Regions from separate parts of the Homo sapiens genome. Here region 2 is linked to region 1. A link means that fine-mapping ties the variant in region 1 to the expression of a gene that starts in the linked region. Tissue or cell type: tibial nerve. Region 1 holds a variant in brackets; the other region holds the start of a gene. All regions are shown on one strand. Distances are between the middles of the regions.

Region 1 (8,126 bases):
ATGATAGTAGCACTTAGCCTTTCCTTGATGATCCCTGAGTAATTTAACCACTAACCCACATCTTCATACCCAATTCAGAAAATCAAAAGTCCAGTGATTAACCAGTTTTACCATTTTTGGAAGACCTGACCCTCAGGGTCTCTCTCAATCTTTCCCTCCCAAATTATTTTCAATCAGTACGCTTTTTCTTTTAGAGGAGCTTCAGTAAATACAATTTACTCCTTGCTGAATTTCTGGCAGTGTTGTAGCCCCTTCAAGAGGGACATTTCAGGCAGTTGCTCAACTGATTTGGTCTCTCACAAGCTGAGGGTCAAGTAACTACCATACAAAGAACACTATGAAATTTTCTTTATAAATAGATCTTTTTTGAGTGCAGACAGTTCCTACCGTATTCTTCAGGTATCTTTGGGAAGAGACCCAGCCTGGTCTCTCTTTATGGGGAGGACATTATCTTTGTACATACCACCTATGGATATCCACCCAGACATCTAGACTCTGATGTCTAGATCTTTCATTTCTGGTTTCTTCTCGTACATTAGCGTATACCTTTATTACTGAACACTAACAATGACCCTTCATGAGGCCGTATCTAGTTACAGGGGAGGCCTTCATAGAAAAATCAGTCTTCATGGAGTAACCATAACAGAATATAATGTATTATAACCCCAATAGTCGTGACACATTTACAGTAATAAGGAGCATTTTTCTACTCATCCCACTCCCAATGACTGCCTCGAGCAGTCAAGATGCCTTCACTGCTGCTGTTCAAAACCTCTTTATTCCTCTTCCTCCATTTATAGCAGAACCCACTCTTTTTTTCAATAAGCTGACTCTTAGAAAAGAACTGATAAGCTAAATTCCAAGAAGGTGCTCCTGGCTAAAAGTAGCATAATAGATAATTTAACTTTGGAGTAACAATGCTTTAAACCCAAATGAGCCAGGCTCTAAAAATGAAGTTTAGTGATTGTTACAGGCCACTAGGAAGATATTTTGTGTCTGAGAGACTTCCCTGGTTCAACTTAAATCACACACAATTAGTAGAAGCTTATTCCAATTATGCCTGCATGATGCCTGCCTTGTGGCTGGTTGCTTGGGCTATTCTTTAATAGAGTGAGGGAGATTTGGAAGAAGTAGGTTCCTACTAGGAAGTCTCTCATTCCACCATTATTGAGCTGCTTACAGTGCTGTGTGTGTGGTGGTGTGTGTTGGGAGGTGGTAGGTGGTGGTTCACTGCAGAGTGCTGGAAGGTATTACAAACCTTAGGGTAAACATGGCAACCCTTTTTGGAGCATAAATCTCTTCTTGAATATGTGGGGAAAATAAGTGCAGTGAGATTATTTATTGAAACCTTAATTTGTATTTTGGTTGAGGGCGTGGAAGCATCAGAAAGAATGAGAACAATTTTTTTTAAAAATTTTCCTGAATTCTGAGAAGGCCATTGTGTTCTTGTTGCAGTAGCAGCTTGAAGATAATTATCTTTCAGGCTTTCTCAAAACTCTAAACTCTTTGAAATTGTGTAAGGGCATGTGTATGTATATGCAGGGATGGAGAGATGTGAAGAAAAGAGTTGGAACTGACAGAGAAAGGAGATTCTGAGAAGCCTGGGAAGGGATGCAGGGCTATGAGGGGCCCGGATGCCCCTATCCCTGATTGGCAACTGAGAACTGCAGAGGGTAGGCTGGCCTTGAGTGCTGGGCTCTAGCCTCAGCAAAAGTCCCAGTGGTAGAGCAGAGGCTTGGCAGGGAATGTGTGGAGCTTCTTCACCCGCTAACTCCAAGGGCCATGCACAGCTGGGCAATGAGCCTAGTAGTGGTAACCAGTACAAACCAAGGACTGAAGGCCCTTCCTCAAATACCCTGTCCCAAATACCCTGAGACTTTGATAGTACTCTGGGAGATATAGATGTGCATATAGAGTTACAGGATTGAATAAGATAATTTCTTGCCAATCTGGCATAGAGAGGAGGGGGCCTACATTAGATTTAGTTTTGCAGAAAAAAAATCTAATGTTTGTGGAAAACTTGGTGTATTGGTTATTTATTGCTGTGTACCCCAAAATTTGGTGTCTTAAAATACCAAACCCTGTAATCCCAGGACTTTGGGAGGCTGAGGTGGGTGGATTGCTCGAGCTCAGGAGTTCAAGACCAGCCTGGGCTACATGGTGAAACCTCGTCTCCACCAGAAAAAAAAAAAAAAAAAAAAAATCAGCCAGGGGTGGTGACATGTGCCTGTAGTCCCAGCTGCTAGGGAGGCTGAGGTGGGAGGATCACTTGAGCCTGGAAGGCGGAGATTGCAGTGAGCTGATATTGCCCCACTGCATTGCAACCTGGCCGACAGAGTAAAATCCTGTCACAAAACAAAACAAAACTGAATGTTTAGTTAGATGTCGCTGGCTCATGGTTTCTCATAAGATTGCAATCAATGTGTCAGCTGGGACTGAAGTCATCTCAAAGTTTGACTGGGGGAAGATCTGTTTCCAAGCTCAGTCATGTATCAGGCCTCAAGTCTTCTCTGGATATTGACTGGAGACCTCATTTCCTTGCTCTGTGGACCTCTCCACAGAGCTATTACTCACAACATAGCAACTTGATTACCTTAGAGAAAAGGCTGAGAGAGGGAGAGAGACAGAGACAGACAGACAGACAGACAGACAGAGACAGAGGGAGAAGAGAGGGGGATAGACTGGGGAAAAGAAAAGGCAAGGTGTGGGGAGAGAGAAAGAGAGACTAATACAGGGGCATAGTCTTTTTGTAACCTAATCTCGAAAATGGCATTCCATGGCTCTGCCACAGTCTATTAATTAGAAGTAAGTTGGTAGGTACAGGTCATATACAAAGACAGGAAATTGTACAAGGGCATGAATACCAGTCTGTAAGGTGAATACCACCATACAGACTGCCCACTACACCTGAGTTTGAGAGGGCAATTTTGTTTCCTCTATTCATAAGCAAACATAATTATGTTATGGCATAGAATATGAGATTCTGGGGTTGTTAATTCATGGACTCCTAGTACGAAGCATTTTGGAAGCTTTGTATTCATATGGTTCCTATGCTTAAGGAATTGGCCCAAGTAGGGCTTCCACTCAAAGGACACTGGTTGCTATTTGGGGGCTGTGAAAAGACGGTAGGTAAGTGAGAAGGAAAAGAAAACATGTTTTGCAAAATACTTTGTTTTGCTGAATACAATGCAAGAGAAAAAGGAGGAATAAGGCACGGCCTTGCTCTCAGATGTGACATGGGTAAGTTGGAATCTAGAAGACAGAATAGAAAATAGTGCTGGATTGAATTTAAGCCAATGATCACAATAAATGTTCATACCAAATAGTGATAGATGGGTGAGGCAGGGAGAATGTCAGAGGGCCCCAC[T/C]TAGTATTAAGAAAAGATTTTGAAGAAAAGGTGAAATGTGACCTGCATTGGAAATTTGGGGATGGAGGTGGGGGCAAACAATGTGGGCAGAGGTTTAGAAAGAGGAAGAATGATGTCTTTGGAAACTGACTTAGTTGGAGGGCAGGTTTATATGGAGTCTGGGTCCTGGATTTTTCATCATTGTTTGTTCCTCATCTTCAGTGTGTGTTTTTGGGGCATCTCCTGCCTGCATAGCTCTGTCCTTGGTGGTGGTGGAGAGCCTGAGAGCCCAGGATGACTCTGGAGAACATGGCCCTTCTTTAGGGAGCTTCCTGGTGGGCTCAAGATTTCTTAATGCCATATCTGATGTCACATTGCTCACCGCTGTGATTCCAGGATGGAAAACTGAATAAGAAGCATTTTTTCTTTCTCTGGAAGGGATAGCCTTTGGGGGCAGAGGGGAAATTAGCTAGAAAAAAACCAAATAGGCTTCTCTGAAAAAACAAGGTTTAATCAAGGATCTTGAGAAAATAACCAGCTGTTTTATGAGCAATTTGACTATTCTTTTGAAAAGAGTTAATGTACCACAAGGAACACAATTATTTTTAGAGCCCTAAGGAAGCAGGGATTTGTTTGAAGCTCCAGATTAAAGGTGGATCCAAGGTTCTATGAGGTGACGGGCAAAGAGACCAAAGAAAAAGTTTTCTGAACTTTGAATTTGTGTAACTTGTAAGGAAGAGGGGCTGTTTTATTTTTTTCCATTTTATTTCCTAGATCGCTTGTCAGAGCTTAGATGTCGCACTTTGGGGATTTAATGAGTTGACATTTTCACAGGCTAACCTGGTAATTAATTTCTGCTCATCATGGGGCCAGTGTCAGCTCATTCTTCCTTTCTGATCCAGAGCCAGGAGTGTGAGGTCTGAGTCCTGTTTGTCTGACTTTCTCAGGAGCTGGCACTGGGCAGCAATGGGTGCCCATAGGCTGGACCCCTTTTGGGGTCAAGGCAGTGGTTGGTTGAGAGATGAGTCTTGCAGAACAAGATGGGCCCCAGAAAATTTAGGGAGTTGAAATCTTATGTCTCTGTTCACACAAACAAACACAGTTACTTTGTCTTTTCCTCTCCTTACAGTAAAGAGTTGGTTAAGTCATGGAATCATTTTAAAAAGAATCCAGTAAATATACATTAATATTTATCTACATACTATTTGCTTAATCACTCACTTACTTACTTAAAATATTTAGTTTAATTTTAATCTGAGTTTTTAGGGGAACTCCTGTCAGTTGATGTTGAGCCAAGACTGCTCTCTAAGGATGTATTGCTAATCGTAATTTTGTGTTGTCTTTCTTGTATAAACATCTCCCCTAAATGCATCATCTCTGATTTCTAATTTTAGGGTTTTAAAACATGGAGTGAAAGTTATACACACTTGCAAGGTAAAATCTTAATATTTTATAATTATAGTTGTCTCATTCACATCTGACTCACTGATAACTTTTATTAGCATGGTGTGATGGATATTTTTCAATGTATTCTGCTTAATTTTTAAAATAGAAACATTCTTCCTTTTCACACTCATTTTATTAATATACACAATATTTTATTGAATTAGATATTTACATCAACACATGAAACTGACAAAACACATTTGGGAACAATTTACTCTTGGAAAGAATATAACTAAATTGGTGGGATGCAAGGATATATTATTATTTATTACTTGTTAGCTTTGAGCTCAGAGTGCTGTATGTTTTAAAGGGAATGAAGGATATCAGCTCATCTAGAATAGGGGTTAGCAAACTTTTTCCATAAAGGACCACGTAGTACATGTTTTAGGCTTTGCAAGACTCTACAGTTTCTATGGCCAACTACTCAACTCTTCCATCATAGCACAAAAGCAGCCCTAGACAATGTGTAAATGAATGAGTGTAGTTATATCCCAATAAAACTTTGTTTCCAAAAACAGGCAGCAGATGGGATTTGGCCTGAGGGCCATAGTTTGCCAACTCCTGATCTAGAGTACTAGTTAAGCTGAAGTAGATTAAGAGAGTTGCTATTCCTCTTGATTCACTCTACCAAATGTTTGTTAAATGTAAATTGCATGCTTACCTGTTCATATCTGTGATAGACAGGGTAATAATGTGGCTTATTCTTCCTAGCTATAATGTGATGCATGCCTTTGTGTTCATTCTTCTGTGGCTTGATGTCCTTTCCATGCCCTTTTCATCTCCTGGCACATTTCTGCCTATCTTTCAAAACAGCTCAAAAATTACCTCCTCAGGGAAGCCTCCCCTGTCTGCTGGGCCAACTTCAATGGCCCTTCTCTGGGTTGTTGCAATTGTCATCCCCTGCAATCCTCCAACCTAGTGCTTGTCATGCCGTATTGTAAAAAATGGGCTTTGTGTCTCTCTCCTTCAAACCTGTGACCTTTTTGAAGGCATGAACTGAGACTCAGTCATGTCCATATACCTTTGTACATAGCAAGCATTCAATAAATGTTTGTTGAATAAATGACAGAATCAATGTGGCAAAGCATGACATAAACAGACTATATGAATAGCCATTGCTATTATTTGTGTGTATGTATTTTGACTTTGTAACTTTTTTCTTTTATTTATTCACTAAGAAGATGGAGGGAGTGTGGCAGCAGATCTTGACAAGTTTTCCCATAAAAACAAATTTACTTATTTGTTATTTATATACATTTTAAAATTTATAGACATTAAAACATAAAAGTAATATGTGTATATAGCTTTAAGGTCAAATTGTGCTACAAGATTTGTGAGGCAGGCACTTGTTTGGCTATTTGCAGCCATTCTCAACCCCTGTCTCTGTTGCTTGCTTTCTACTGCAGAGGATGAAAGTCCAGATTCTCCCATCACCAGCCTCTCTCATAGGCAGAGGTGGCCATGTGACCCAGTTTCGGCTAACGAGATGTAAGGTGGACTCTACTCAGGGTCTTCCAGGAAAGATATTTTCCTTTCTAATTGTGGTGAAGACTGCCAGGTATCTGTTATTTTGTTCTTCCCTTTTTTTTTTTTTTTTTAGAACTTTTAAGTTTTAGCTGTGCATATGGCTACTAGGAATAAATACTGCATTTTCCAGTGTCTTTTCTAGCTAGTTGTGGCTTTGTGACTAAATCCTGGCCAGTAGGATATAAGCAAAAGTGTTTTGTGGCAGCTTTCAGGAAATTTCGTCAAAAGAAAGCTCTCATGTGTCCTTTTTATTCCTCATTCCTCCATCCTGCTGGCTGTAATGTTGACATGATGGCTGGAGCTGCTGTAACCTTCTGGAACTATGAAGTCACCTTGAGAAAGGAAGCTGTGACTAGTAGAATGACAAGAGAGATGGAGGCTTGTTTTCTGAAGGGATCACAGAGTAAGTAAACCTCATACCAATCCTGGACAACCTACCTCCTCTAGAGTGGCGAGAACAAGATTTTGCCTTGCTCTAGACATTCTAATTTTGGGTCCCTATCACTCATTATCAAAACTAATCCTAACTGATTCACTAATGAGAGGGAAGAGTTACATGAAGACAACTTTCTTGCTCAGTCACGGGCAATCTGTCTCCCATGATCTGCCTGTGAACACAATGTTTGCATCTGTGGCAGCCACCTTGCAGCCCTGAGTGAACAAGGTTGAAAAGCAACACACTGAGGATGGTGGAGCAGAAAGCTGGAAAGCAATGAGTCCTCAGTGATGTCACTGAGCTTCCAAGCCCATCTATTTCTGTACATTTTTTGAAAAAGTAAACAACAAGTATCCTCACATAGTAAGCCACCGTTAGTCCAGTTCCCTGCTACTGGTATCTTAATTAACTTGGTTTACACAAATCAGTAGTTCCTTGTCTCATGCCTGCTCATCCTGATTCTGTCTCTGGTAGGGAACCACTTTCAACTCTTAGCTGCTTTTCTTTGCTGTTTAGCTAACTAGGTAAAATAAAAGGATGATGATTTTGCTCTCTTAAATAACTCCTTTTATACACTTCCTTAATGTCTTAATGTCTCTCCTTCTGTCTCTCAATATAGCGAAGCCACTATTTTTGTTCATCTTGACTTTGTCAATATTATTTACAGCTGAGACATAGTGTTCTACAACTTCATTTTTTTCTTTTGCAACTTTTCCTTGGAATCATTAATTGACTTCCTGTATCATTTGCTTAGTTTTCTATGTATCTATCAATAATTCATTCCCATATATTTCACTAAAGCTGTAAAACTCGTTTTACTCCATTTAAACACATGAAGTAATCAAATAGTTCCTTTATTCCTGTAGGAGACATCTCCCTGGGAGCCTCTAGTCAACTACTCCAAATGTGGACGAGCTGCTATCTCAGTTTGCTGCCCAGTTATCATCTTAAGATTCTTTTGACCTCTTTCCTGTGTTGGAGTCCCTATTCTTGATCCTCATGTCTCCTTCTTTCCTGGTTTTCTCAGTTGTTTGGTTGGAACACATTTGGCTGAAGCTTTCTAAAAAAGAATACATGGGCAATTTTCTATTTTTTTAAAAAAAGATTGAGCATGTCTAGAAATATCTTTATCTGACCTTCTTACTTGATTCATGATTTGGCTGGCATAGAATTCTTGGCTGGAGAGTATTTTCCCTCAGAATTTTGTAGGCATCTTCTTTTAGCTTCTGCTGCTTTTAAGAAATAGGATGCTATTCTTACCTGCTTTTTTTGTTTGTCTGGAAGCTTTAAGCATCTTCTCTAATCTCCATTGTTCTGGAATTTCATGGGGATGGTTTGTGCCTTTTTTTTGTTTATTTTACAGGATATTTA
Region 2 (8,126 bases), 51 kb before region 1:
TCAACCTTTCTGTTGTCATAGAGACAAAGATCTTTATATAGCCATGGGCAAGGTGAGATTTTTTTCTCCTCTTTCCAGTTGCCTAGAACTAATAAGAAAGGAAAGGAAATTTTTTAAATCAGTTTTTTCTTTCATTTTTTCCCCAATTAAAGTGAGTGAAATGTGGGAGGTTATATTTTGTATCACATTTTAGATTTTAAATACCTATGTTTTTCATAAAATATGAAAGGGGAGGAAAAATTTGAACGATGCCATTTTCAAAATTTGTAAGCAGCAGGCTTGTCAGTGATAAGCAGCTATAATCCATGTACCTTGTTTTTTTTCTTCTTCTTAAACCAAATAGTGAACTTTGGATGGAGGTCTTAGAAGGTAAGGTTACTAGGACCCCAAATGACTAAAGCATAAATTAACATCTATTGAGGGACTAATGCTGAATCCTAAGGTGCTCTGCAGTACTTGCCTCCTCCAACCCTGAGAACTTGGAGTGCTCCCCTTCTCTCTGCAGAGGCAAAGTCTATGATAATGTAGTGCAAGACCACATCCTCTCCTCCTGGAAGACTTACCTCATAATTTAAGCTTTCTTTTTTTTTTTTTTTATGAACTGATAACTTGCCATCATAGCAGTTTTCTGTCTCATAATTACTGTTTATCATTTCATGCATTCATCATCAAGAAAAGAGGATTTCAGTATGAACCTGTCCACTTTTCCTGTCCTTTGTCTTAATATTGAGTTATTCCTTTACCCATAGGTCTTCTTACCTCAGGACTCAAAACTTCTTATTCTTTCTAAGGTTAATCTTTCCCCCATGTTGTTAGACTGATGCTCTCCTCCTACCCCCATTGAGATCTGACAATTAACATTCCTCCCTCATTCCCTGTATCTTCAGTCTGTCCTCCATGGATTCCTTCCTGCAGTCCTCTTTGAGGAAAAAAAAAACTTCCCTCAATTCTGCTTATTTTCCGTCTGCCTCTGGGTTTAGGATTTTGATTTTATGCCTTTTTGCAATAAATAGGTGTTATGCCGGATTTTGGCGGGGGGGGGGGGGGGTGGGGAAGGGAAGTGTATGGCACAAGGACTTTTAAAATATACTTTTTCCTCTCTAAGATGATACCTCCCTGGAGAGCTGTGCCTTGGTTCTCAAACTTTAGTATGCATCAGAATCACCTGAGGAGCTTGTTAATCTGTAGCCTGCTGGACCCCACCCCTGGAGTTTCTGATTCAGTAGGTTGGGGCTGAGGCCTGAGAATATGCAGTCTAACATTTCCCAGGTGATGTTCATACTGCTGAGCTAAGACCATACTTTGAGAAATATTGCCTTGAAGTAACAACCCTCCCTTTGCTTAACATGCACCTCTCTTGTCATATGGATGTTGGTGTCACTATGTTGTGCCAAAAGTTACCCTGTTTTGGCCTGCATAGGCTCAACCTCCACAGAGTGACAAGGGCATCTCTTGAAAGATGAGGGCATCTCTCAACCATCTGGTGCTCAGGAAATGAAACCTTGTGAGGGTCACCACGCTTGGCTAAGGAGGCTAAATGACTGGCAGAGGATGTTCCTGGTGGTGGATGCTCAGGGTCTCTACCCCCAAACCTAGTCAGCCCTATCAGATATTTTTGAGGGGTTCTAGGATTCTTGAAACCCTGCTGAAAGGCAGCAGGAGAAAGTGGGATTTTTAAAAAAAATTTACTTCAGCCTTTTCCAGGGAAGGGGGTCCCCTCCTGAGAACAGCACGTGGCAGCAGGAGCCCTTGAGAGATCTTACTGAAAAGCTGAATTGAAAAGGAACTGGGACTTGGCCCACCCATTCATGCCCCCAGTGGGAGTTCTTTGCTCAGTACTAATTTTGGAGAAACTGAGTGTGTGTGTGTGTGTGTGTGTGTTTTATTAAGAAAGCAGTAGTTTTTCTTACAAAGATGAGCAAATTTAAAAAGATAATTAATAGATAAAATCCTGAATTGCTATTCAATAGCTGTGAGACCTTGAGCAAGTTATTCCTTCTCCTTGGATCTCAGTTTCTTCTAATCTGTATGATAAGTAGCAGGCAAGTGAGAAAGTCTGTTAGTAGTACAGTCATTCTTAAGAGCAACATGGCATGCTTGTCAGGGACGGACCAGGGCTGGAACTTGGAAGGCCTGTTGCATGGATTTGTGGATTGATTGAAACAAATTCTATCAGCATGGTCCATTCCTTCAGGGAATGGACCTGACAAGATAATTAATGGAAACTAATTAATATAAACCCCTCAACCCTTTAACTGTATCTCTCAACCACAATTATTCCCAGAAGGCCTTTAACTTTTCCACATGAAGAAGCCTGGCCTGGCAGGGAGGGTGAGTCTCCTCTATGAAACAGCCCGTGACAGACTGTTGGGGGCTCAAAGGAAATGGCAGAGGGGGTGGTCTCCTTCCTTCCCCAGCACAGAATTCCATCATCTCTAATTGTTAGGACATGATCAAGACCTCTACCAGCCTTTTAGATACTCTTGTCTTTTGTCTTTTTTTCCCTTTCTTTTCTTTCCTTTTCTCTTTTCACAGCTGTATTGAGATGTAAATCCTACACTATAGAATTTAAAGTGGACAATGCAATTGTTTTTAATATGTTCACACGCAACTGTCTCTACAATCTAATTTTACAAAAATTTCACCACCCCCCCGCCCCAAGCCCATACCCACTGATTAGTAGTCACCTACTGTCCCTCCCATCCGCTTCCCCAGCCCTGGTAACTACTAATCTACTTTCAGTTTATCTGGACATTTCATGTAAATAGTATTATAAAATATGTGGTACTTTTTTTTCTAAATAGGAGAAAGGAGACCTGATGACACCCTGATAGTCTAGTACTAAAGGCTCCCCTTCTCCTCTTTACCCCATTACTCCAGAAACAACGCCCTCCCCCAGGTTGCTGATGTATACAATCCCTCAATCAGGCCTGTGAGTGTGGAGGTGGTGCGCGGGTGCCAGCGGCAGGGCACAGGGCCTTTGGTCCATTAGACCATGAGACTGAAGTTCAAGCACATCTGGGCACGGTGGAGCAGCGGCTTGTGTGCTCACTAAGATGCCCGTGTGACTGCCAGCAGTCAGTTGACAGATTAGGTCACCCTTGGCCATAGGGCCTGAGCACTCCATTCCTAGAGGACCACAGGGTGCCAGAGCTCACATTCACCTTCCCTGACGTGGCTGGCCCAAGGCTCAAAGGCCTGTAAGACTTCTCTGGCAGAGACCCCTGCCAGAGGAGTTGAGGAGCGTCACACCCATATTCCCTTCAAGCAGCGGCAGAGAGCAGGCCTTCCCCTGAGGTTCCTGAATAGTTCTACTCCCCCGGCCACAGCCCCAACCAGGGGTAAAGAATGGGGCTGGGGCTCTCAGAGGCATGGGGTGGTAAAAACAACCACCAAGTTTTGGGTTCTCATCACCCTAAAACGTGGGGGAAATTTGATAGGGCAAAGCGTTTTTCTCCAAGCTTCCAGGGAAAGGGGGCCAAAGGAGTAGGGAGGGAAGGTGGCATAGAGCGATGGAGGGTCCTGCATCAAGGGCGCCGCGACGGGAGCGCTGTGTACTCACAGTCGAGTGAGACCGGCCGTGGGGCCGGGGCAGCGCAGGGCGCCGTCGGGCACGCAGTTGCAGGGCTCAGGGCAGAGCGCCTCGCGCAGCGCTCGTGGCAGCGGCGGCTGCAGCAGCAGCAGCAGCTTCAGCAGCTGCAGCGCCGAGAACCGCTGCTTCATGGCCGGCGAACTGGGCTTCTGCGGCTTGCCAGTGTCTTGGACGGCCTCTGAGTGCGGCCCGCACCCCTCTCCCCGCCCCTTGGCTGCCCTTCCACACACCCTTCCCTGCCGGCCCGCCCCTGCCCTCCCCCTCTTACCGCGCACCCCGCTGAGTCTGCTCTGCCTTGACCTGCGACAGTGCCCAGTGACCCAATAACCTCCTTCCTGCTACTTTCCCCTGTCTTGTCCCCTACCATCTGCAAATGGCCCTAGCTATAGGAGGTAAAGAGATTTAATGGCAAATGTTTTGGATTAGAGGTGGGGAGTTCTGAATTGAGTGAGTTGTGACGCTTCCCGGAACCCCTTTTATTTCATTTGTGAAAGGGTCCGATGGATACTCGCTATACCCACATCAGAAGGCGTAAGAGTGCCTGGCTCAGACATTTTTCCTCTCTTTTATCCTCAACCCCTAATCCTTTCCCCTTCTCTTTCACCAAATCCCTCCACTCTACAAGTAATCTTTGCCCATCCTCCCAACTACCCCAGTAATTTCTCTTGGTGGTAAATGCTTTCTTATTTATGGTATAGCTATTTGGCTTGGTCCTGTATCTCTTCTATAGATTGGGAGGTCCTTGAGAGCAAAATCCAATTCAGATTTATTTTTGTATTCCTTCTGGCTTCTACATGGTAAGTCCTCAGTAAAGATTTGTTGAATGAATGAATGAAACTGCCTAATACTGGTAGCAGCTGCCCCATAGAAGGCCCAGGATAGGCTAGACCTTGTAACAGGTGCTCTGCCTCACATCATGTTTAAGCTCCACATTGAACTAGCAGGGTGTTTGCGATGAGAAAAATGTCCCAAGAGGTATGTGGCTTCCCTGAAGTCACACGGTTTTAAAGTAGTGAAACCTGGAACTCATGTCTATCACCTACCACCTCTCACCAATGCAAAAAGCTGCTATGATCTACATACCAAAGAACTTAGGAGACAAAATTTTACGGTAATCATGGGGATCCATAATATCCCCTCTTTGATTTGATCATTTCTTCCTTCCAAGGATTCTGTTTGGATTCTGGAAATCCTAGCAGTTTTGCTGGAAGAGGTGGACTTTGAAAGCTGGGAAGGCATTTAAGGCTTTGAAGAGAGGAAATATAAGAATAGATTTCTTTCACTCTGAAGCCAGTTCTCAAGGATGGGCTCCTTCATTCACCATTCTACAGTCTGTTGCTCAAGGAGGGTAGATTATTATTATTTTAAAAACTTGTTTGGCTTTGGCCACATTGTGCTAGATGGCACAAAAACAATGCTCATGTCTATAATATTGTCTTCTCTGGATCCTCTCTTCAACTGCTTATAGATGACTCCTCACCCTTTAATACCTCTGCATGGGCTGTCCCCACTATTTTCTCTTCTTTTTCCATTATTCCATTAGATAAACTCCCAGTTGTCCTTCAAGACTCAGCCCAATGTCATTTCCACTTTGATTCTTCTCTGAGTCATCCTAGTTGAGTAGTTGTGGCCATAACACCTGGTTCTACAGCAGGTAATCTAACACACTGTAATTGTGGGTTTAATTTTGCTTTCCCCTCTCTATTCATCTCAATATCAACAGAGCATGTCATAGCTTCTAGCTCCTAGTAGGTGTTCCATATGTGTCTGTTGAATAATAGAGTGAATAAGTGAGGCCCAGATTTGTAGTAGATGCTCAGTAAACTATCTGAGAAGAGCTTGATACCCTCACTTGCTTTATTCTCAACCACGCTGGATCTATCTGGATATGTAAAAAGTAATTATACATGACGACTTTGGGTGTCATGTTCTCTGTTCTCTTTTAGTTTTGTCAGATTTTGGTAGGGAAGTTGGGGTAGGCACTGGGATTTTTAAAAGTTTTCACCATGTATCTTGAATGGAAGGAGAGAAAGAATGAATAACTCAAGGTGCCTGAATGGCTTTTCTTTCAAGTCTCATGTTTTATGTGACTTTTTTCTTTTTTTAACCCTGTAGTGTACCTGTTATATATAAAAAAAGTTTGCTCCCACCCACCCCTGAATCTTTGAAAACAATGGATATTCCAGAAGAATCATTTAATTCTGTACTCCAGTAGGAGGACTAGGCAATCAGAACACTAGGATTTTCCTTCTGTTTCTGCTGTCAATCATGAGATTTGCCCTTCAGTCTCTTCATCTGTAAGAAGAAGGGTTGAAGTTCACTATCCCTAAGGCTCTTCTGGCTCTAAAGATGCAAGGACTTTCTAAGCAGCTCCTACAGAATTGCTAGTGGGAGGAATTGGATTGTATATATTGACTTCTTATAACTTGTCTTGGATTGGAAATAAAATCCTGTTTATGAGGAGTTGAGGTTGTTCGTTTGGAAGAAAGCTAACAACTGTAATGAGTTTTCATAAAATTTTACTATCTAGATTAATTTCAGTTGGATCTTAATTATCACATCAGTTCTTGCAATGTAACTATTATAATAAAATCATATTGATTCATTTGTTATAATCACAAAAGTTTGTTACAATGGAATTTACCTATCTTATTCATTAATACTCATTATGAGTGAGTATTTTTAAATCCAAAGGACTTTGTTTCATTAACTATGCTTATAGCTACTTTGTCAGAGAACTTCAAACCAACATGACCCACAAAGATTGCTGATTACATTTTAATGACAAAATAAAGTTCACAGAATTCACAAATATTTTATCCTACTTTAGAGATAGAAAAACATACTGACACCGTAACTCAGAAATTGCAATTAAAACTCTCCAAAGTTTTAGAATGGAGCTTCTCATATTTTAGGGTGCAGAAATACCATTTGCAAAGCTTTAAATACGAAGATTCCTAGAACTTTCCCTATGAGATTCTGATTCCATAGATATAGAGTGGGGTCCAATAATCTGCATTTTAACAAGCTTTCTCGTGTAATTTTGATGCATGTAGTCCTAGAGCACAATTTGAGGAATACAAAAATGGTAATCCTAGAATTAAATTTGCCTGAAGAAAACAAAGCTCAAGAATCTTTATTAAGGACTTTGAGTGAAGCCTAATAATTTTGATGCATCTTAAAAGAAACCTTGATATGTATAAGCATAGAAATAGTATATTCTGTATACCTGTGTTTAAATGTCTAAAATTATTTAATTGGTTATATTGCTGAAATTTATTTATTTATTTATGGAATGAGCCATGTTGCAAAATCATGGAATCTATTTTCTTTATGCCACCCTAGGTCAAAACTCAATAGCATCTGAAGTTACATTAACACATTGGAGTTGAAAGACATTAGCAAAGTAATTTTTAAAAAAATTTTTACTTTAAGTTCTGGGATACATGTGCAGAACGTGCAGGTTTGTTACATGGACATACCTGGGCCATGGTGGTTTGCTGCACCTATCAACCCGCCATCTAGGTTTTAAACCCCGCATGCATTAGGTATTTGTCCTAATGCTCTCCCTCCCCTTGCCCCCCATCCCCCAACAGGCCCCAGTGTGTGATGTTCCCCTCCCTGTGTCCATGTGTTTTCATTGTTCAACTCCCACTTATGAGTGAGAACATGTGGTGTTTGGTTTTCTGTTCCTGTGTTAGCTTGCTGAGAATGATGGCTTCCAGCTTCATCCATGTCCCTGCAAAGGACATAAACTCTTTTTTATGGCTGCATAGTATTCCATGGTGTATATGAGCCACATTTTCTTTATCCAGTCTATCATTGATGGGCATTTGGGTTGGTTCCAAGTCTTTGCTCTTGTAAATAGTGCTGCAATAAACATACATGTGCATGTGTCTTTATAGTAGAACGATTCATAATCCTTTGGGTATTCCCAGTAATGGGATTAGCAAAGTAATTTTTAAAACCTTAAGTAGAATAGGCAAGGTTTTTTGATTATTGAACACATACCCTGTTAGTATAATAACTGGTATTTCTTCTCACTTAAAAGCAGTGGTTTTACCTTTCCCTTGGAAGAAAAGGTGAATGTAGGCAGAGGAAGAAAAAATTGCTTAAGAAGAGAAAAATACAGTTACATCTCTGAGCTGTTCACCTTTTTACCTGGGGTAAAAAAACTAAACAAAACAAAATAAGGAGAATAAAAAAGACAGTCCATGAAAGTTACACTCCAAAATTTCATGCAAATTCTTTATTGCTTGTTTAGAATTTTCATCTCCATTTCACTGTCTACATAATGTAAAATCAGAGCTGCGATCATCTGTGCCACCTCCCACACAGCCCTGGGGTTCTTGTGGGCCTCAGCAGGAGTTTGAAGCTGCAGGATGATAGGAAGCTGGGCTGGTAATTGGAATGTGATGATTGGTCTGGGGCATGAGAATCCTACTCTAAGGCTGATGGAGAGAGAGAGTTGGAGAAGGGGCCTTGCCTTTTTGGTCATGTTGCTGGAAGGATGTGAATGAATTAGGGGCTGCTG

What was found. PIP is the estimated chance that this variant, and not a neighbour inherited with it, causes the effect.
Region 2: it holds the start of LHCGR, and the variant in region 1 is fine-mapped to the expression of LHCGR in tibial nerve (GTEx, PIP above 0.99).

Annotation. Positions count from the first base shown.
Region 1 is chr2:48,802,920-48,811,045 of GRCh38, forward strand. LOC105374594 (a long non-coding RNA gene) reads left to right here. Exons shown (of 4, transcript XR_001739460.2): 2 at 4,741-4,780; 3 at 6,199-6,350; 4 at 6,648-8,126. Among named protein-coding and RNA genes, the nearest start is that of LHCGR, 51 kb to the left of the region's middle. The variant T/C (reference allele first, on the strand shown) is at 3,368.
Region 2 is chr2:48,751,949-48,760,074 of GRCh38, forward strand. LHCGR (luteinizing hormone/choriogonadotropin receptor) reads right to left here and starts at 3,776. Exons shown (of 11, transcript NM_000233.4): 1 at 3,563-3,776. The coding sequence starts at 3,723. All of the region lies in intron 10 of STON1-GTF2A1L (STON1-GTF2A1L readthrough), which reads left to right. RefSeq lists an enhancer at 3,334-4,110.